Linked DNA regions of Homo sapiens: region 2 is linked to region 1. A link means that fine-mapping ties the variant in region 1 to the expression of a gene that starts in the linked region. Tissue or cell type: whole blood. Region 1 holds a variant in brackets; the other region holds the start of a gene. All regions are shown on one strand. Distances are between the middles of the regions.

What was found. PIP is the estimated chance that this variant, and not a neighbour inherited with it, causes the effect.
Region 2: it holds the start of DICER1, and the variant in region 1 is fine-mapped to the expression of DICER1 in whole blood (TOPMed, PIP 0.93).

What each region holds. Positions count from the first base shown.
Region 1 is chr14:95,177,980-95,180,997 of GRCh38, forward strand. It overlaps DICER1-AS1 (DICER1 antisense RNA 1), which reads left to right. Exons shown (of 4, transcript NR_015415.1): 4 at 1,525-1,954. Among named protein-coding and RNA genes, the nearest start is that of DICER1-AS1, 22 kb to the left of the region's middle. The variant G/T (reference allele first, on the strand shown) is at 1,704.
Region 2 is chr14:95,156,075-95,158,574 of GRCh38, forward strand. DICER1 (dicer 1, ribonuclease III) reads right to left here and starts at 1,455. Exons shown (of 27, transcript NM_177438.3): 1 at 1,156-1,455. DICER1-AS1 (DICER1 antisense RNA 1) reads left to right here and starts at 1,614. Exons shown (of 4, transcript NR_015415.1): 1 at 1,614-1,784; 2 at 2,119-2,160. RefSeq lists silencers at 746-1,105, 1,166-1,625 and enhancers at 1,716-1,815, 1,856-1,925.

The DNA of each region.
Region 1 (3,018 bases):
GTATATACTTGGTAGTAGGATTGCTGGATCATATGGTAGCTCTATTGTTAGGTTTATTTTTTATTTAAAAAAACATTTTTTTGAGACAGTCTCACTCTGTTGCCTAGGCTGGAGTGCAATGGCGCAATCTTGGCTCACTGTAACCTCTGCCTCCCAGGTTCAAGTGATTCTCCTACCTCAGCCTCCTGAGTGCCTGGGATTACAGGTGTGTGCCACCACACTTGGCTAACTTTCGTATTTTTAGTACAGGGTTTCACCATGTTGGCCAGGCTGGTCTCAAACTCCTGATCTCAAGTGATCCACCCGCCTCAGCTTCCCAAAGTGCTGGGATTACAGGCGTGAGCCACCATGCCCGGTCCTATTGTTAGTTTTTTGAGGAACCTCCAAACCATTCTCCATAGTGGTTGTACTAATTTACATTCCCAACAACAGCATACAAGGGTTCCCTTTTCTCCACATCCTCGCCCCCATTCCTTATTGCCTGTCTTTTGGATAGAAGCCATTTTAACTGGAGTGAGATGATATCTCATTGTGGTTTTAATTTGCATTTCTCTGATGATCACTGATGTTGAGCCCCTTTTCATATGCCTGTTTGCTATTTTTTTTTTTTTTTTTTCAGAAATGTCTATTGAGTTCTTTTTCCTATGGGGACTGTTATGATTTGCATTCACAGTTGAGGGAACTGAGGGCTGGGAATGTTGAGACTTTTCAGAGGTCCTAAAAGAATGGACCCCTGAGTCAATGGCACACGAAGCTCCCTGTCCAGCTTTCTTCCACATGGCAGGACGTAGGCCTCAGACTGGAACCCTGGCAGTCATTTTTGCCCTGTGGGTCTCTCTGAGCCCTGCCCACCAGAAGCAGCTGCAGATCCCATGGCCCAGGTCACATTCTCTTGGGGGCCACTTCTGGGGACACACAAGGAAGACTGATGTGCCAGAAACATTCCAGTGGCCCCGGGTTCCTATTCCAACTCTGCCTGCACTATCTTCATTCAATCATTCCTTCCAGCCTCAACCTTCTCATGGGAAGGACGCAACCACCCACCACAAAACTCACTGTGAGAGTCTTGTGATAGTATAGTATGTTCATAGCCTAGCGCCTGGGAGAGTGCTCAAGAATGGGTAGCTGTGAGCCTGGCAGGTAGTGCACACCTGTAGTCCCAGCTACTCAGGAGGCTGAGGCAGGAGGCTCCCTTGAGCTAAGGAGTTCAAAGCTGCAGTGAGCTATGATCGTGCCATTACACTCCAGCGTGAGCAACAGGGTGAGACACTGTCTCAAAAAAAAAAAAAAAAAAAAAAAAGAAAGAAATGGTAGTTGCTCTGGGTGAACTCCTTCAGAGGATGGATTTGATTTCATTACCATCTCTAAGCCCCAGACACCCTGCAGGCCTTCCATACAGGTATGTATAAGGAACAAGCTGCCCACATCACCCCTGACAACCAGGACTTAGACAAATGTCACCAAGGCTGCTAGATGCCTGCTGCCAACCAACAGCCCTTCTAACTTGTAATTCATTTAGCACAGGTTGGAGCTGAAGGAGTGCCCAGGCTGCGGATGGAGGAAGGACGTGCTCGGGAGAAGGTGAAGATGGGAGAGAAGCAAGATCTTCTGTGTTTGGACCAAGGACACATTTCCTTACTCCATAGCAGCTGTGGTCAGTGGCTTAGCTCGGACAAGGAGATGAGAGCCCATGTGTTGTGAGG[G/T]TTCTTCTGGGAACTCTGAGAAGGCAGGAGCCGCCCCCGCCCTTCACTGCCTCTCTTCCATTCTGCAGCATGGAATATGGATGTGTGGTCTGGATGTACAGACACCATTTTGGACCATAAAGACAAGGACGATTGTCTAAGGATGACACAGCCAGAGCACTGAGAGTGGCGAGAAGGACAGGGGAGCTGCTGTGCCAAGCAGGACTGTCTCTCTTAAGAGAAAAATAAAATTTATTGGTGTTTAAACCATTGCTTTTTTGGGCTGTCACGTCACTGGAATTAATCTGAAACGCTGCAGCAATTAATGGAAAAAATAGAACCCCATCTTCACGCTTTGAGCTTTTTATGGCATAACCACTCTGTCCAAAGTAATATACCACCAAGTTGAAACATGATTATGCTCAGCTGTTTACAGGCTTTGGAAATTTCAGTACAGGGTTTATCTTCCTGTCATACAGCCTGCCATTCCCCTTTTAATGTGGCCAGATCGTTTGATGTGTTTTCTCTTTGTCTCCATTCAAGCAGGGAGAAGGCTCTGTGCATCCAGGAAGGTTTGTGAAGGGCCTCCTGGTATCTGTATTCAAAAGATTTAAAATTCAAATACAGCAGGGAGAGTGGTCGGAAGACCCACTTCGGGGTGGCGTGTCAGAATGGGATTGGTGGGGGAGAGATCAGTCTGGGGGCTCCGCAGATGCCATGGGAATGGCCTCATGGTACACTGGGGACCTGAGATTCCAAAACTGGTCAGAGATGCCCAAGCCCAGTCAATCACGGCACAGCAGCAGAGCAGCTAAGGGGCCATGGGGGCTGCGCCCTACCAGTGCAGACAGAGGCACAGTCACCTCAGGGCACTTCAGTGCCACAGCCCGAGTACCCTTGGACAGGGAGAGGAAAAGGAGATGAGCAACGGGCGTCTCAAACTTAACATGCTCAGATTCAGGAACTCCGGGTCTTCCCCACCATCTGCTTCAGCCCCATTTCCCCATCAGCCAATGGCATCTTTATTCTTCCAGATCCTCAGGCCAAAACCTTGGAGCATTTTTCAATCCTTTTTCTCTTACACTGTACACCCAATCCATTTGCAAATCCAGAGGGTCTACTTTCAAAATACATCCAGAATAAAACCACTGTGGCCCACTTCCGCTGCACCCACCTGTGCCATTGTCATCTCTCCCGGACTGTTGAAATAGACTTCTGGCTGGCCTCTGCATTCTGCCCTCGTTCCCTGGAGTTTATTCTCATTATGGCAGCTGGGTTTAGCCTGCTAAAATGTAAGCTGACGTGTGCTCAAAATTCTCCAGTGGATCCCAGTTCA
Region 2 (2,500 bases), 22 kb before region 1:
TGTATATTTTTATTTAGAAAACTTAACGTTTACACCAATACATATTCAATATAGCTAACCTGTTTTAACAGCACATTTTTAACAATATTTTCCGAGTTGCTTAAATCCTAACCTGAGTCCTTTTCCACTGTTTGAAAACAAGCACCACGAAGACACCTGACAATCAGGATTGTAAAGATTCAGAATATTCGAAGACAGAAGCATAGGCGTCCAAGTGATCCTCTTTCATCAGATGAATGTTTTTAAAACCTGAAAGTCCTAAGAACACTTACTTATCGTGTAGACCAGTAACGTGTCCCTTTAACCACAACTCTCTCCACAAAAGCACGGAGTTAACACTACACAAATAGGACCCTCCAACTCATCTCCACGTTTCCGCGGATCTTCAGGTTCCTAAGGACACACTCAGTGGTTTGCTGGCTCTGACCTCCAGGCAGAGCCATCAGGGCAACTCAGCTTTTCTGGACAATCTACAGAAATCTGATGTGCTAACTTAAAACATACACTGATTTCCCCAAAATCAAAAACCCTGAAGAAAGGGTCCTCCGCAGGGTCTAGGCATTTTGGCACAAAAACATCTGAGGGGAGAGGCAAAAGAATGGCCTCGGCCCCTGCCCGCCCCCCAGGGCCCCAATCTGGTCCCCTGACAGTAATCACACAGGACCCTCCCGGGAGGGACCGAGAGCCCAGCTTCGTCCCCTCCGGGCGCGGCACAGCGGCCCCATCAGAGGAGGGCCCCAGGGTGCTCCGGCAGGTCAGGCGCGCGTCTCCACCTCCGCTGCTCCCGCGCCACCTTAGCGCGCGTGACGGGACCTGTCAAGAGCCCCAGGCCTCGCCAGGCCGGGGAGTGGACAGGCGCCGGCATCCCCCACCACGCCACGGCGGCCCGGAAAGTCTCCCAGGGCTGCCTCGCGGGGAGGCGCCGGGGTCCGGGCCCAGGAGCAGAGCCGAGGCGGGCAGACGCCGGGTCCACAGGCCGCGCTGTGCGGGACGACGAGGCAGGCGAGGCCGCGCCCTTCGTCAGCGCCCGCCAGGCCCGGACGCGCGGCTCGGGGCCATGGCCGGCACGCGGGCCTCCGCGCGGAGGCGGGAGCGCGGCCAGGCGACCCGCTCCCCGCCCCGGACACAAAGCTGCTCCGCGGGAGCCCGCCTCACCTGCAGCACGGGGCGCCGCGGGCCTTCGAGAACCATCGGACCCCGCTCCGGCGCGCGCGTCACAGCCCAGGCCTCCCGGAGCCGCCCGGCGCCGCCGCCCCCGCCGCCATTTCCTCGCGCTCGCCGTCGCCTCGTCCCCGCTGTCAGGTTACTCCATTCACCTGGGCCTGCAGCAGCCTGCGCCGCGCCTCCGCCTCGACCCCTCCCGCCGGCGCCTGCGGAGACTGCGCAGCGCCCGGCTGGCCGGCAGCCAGCGCACGGCCCGCGGCAACGGCGCACAGCCGCTTGGAGAATCCCACTGGCTCCCGCACCGCCCCTCCGCGCCCCCACGCTCCGCTCGCCCCGTGGCGGCATGAGAGCGAGCCTGTGATTGGACAGGGCCTGGCGGTGAAAGGTTAATCCCGGCCCCCCAGCCACTCAGGAGCAGGGAGACAGCGGGCGCGCGCGCGGAGGCCGGAGAGGCGTTTGCGGCCCAGCGCCTGGACTGGACCTTGGCGTTGGGCCGCAGTTGCCCGGAGTTTTTGGGGCCCCCGGGAACCCGCGCGCCGAGGCCGGCTAAGTTTGGCAGACTCTCTGAGCTCTCGGAATTCGACTGCCTCCATTGTTGCTCCTTCTGGCACCCACAGACCGTAACGTGGCCGTAATTGTTTCCCGGAGAGCTTAGCTTCCCTCTGAGCACCTCCCTCCCCTTTTTAAAGTACCTTCCCACTCGCCTGCGTTTCCTCGCGTTAGTGGTGCAGGGGCCTCCGCATTTGGGGAAATAACAAACACCCACTTCCGCCCCCCACCCCAACCGGGATCCCCAGATAATGAGAAATAGATGGTGGCCCTCTGTTTGTAAGCTGTTCATTTGCATAGGTCGGAACCGCGCACCACAGCTTGAAGCTAGGAATTAAAATATCGGTGGGAATTAAATAAGTGGCTGGCTTAAAGAACATCTTCTTAATTTATCCCCAAATGTAGACATCTCTTCAGTGGACCCCCTGATAGGCCGGTTTGCTCCAGGTGAGGTGTGCTCACAGCAACTGCAACCGTGTTTCTTTCAGACCATGGGCGTGAGCAGAACCTACTATGCGCCCCTGCTGCCTGGGCTGTGCTGTTCAGTTTGGGGCCACCAGCCCCACATGGCTCCTGAGCACTTAAAGTATGGCTAGTCGGAATCGAGATATATGCATTCTTTACCAAATAATGTTCAAAAAATTGTTACATGTTGAAGTGATAAACTTTTTCCATATATTGGGATAAAAGTTTTATTTGTTTATTTTTTAGTGTGGGTTCTACAGAATTTTAAATGTCACCTGTGGCCTGCATTATATTGCCATTGGGCAGGCTGATCTAGGGCTTG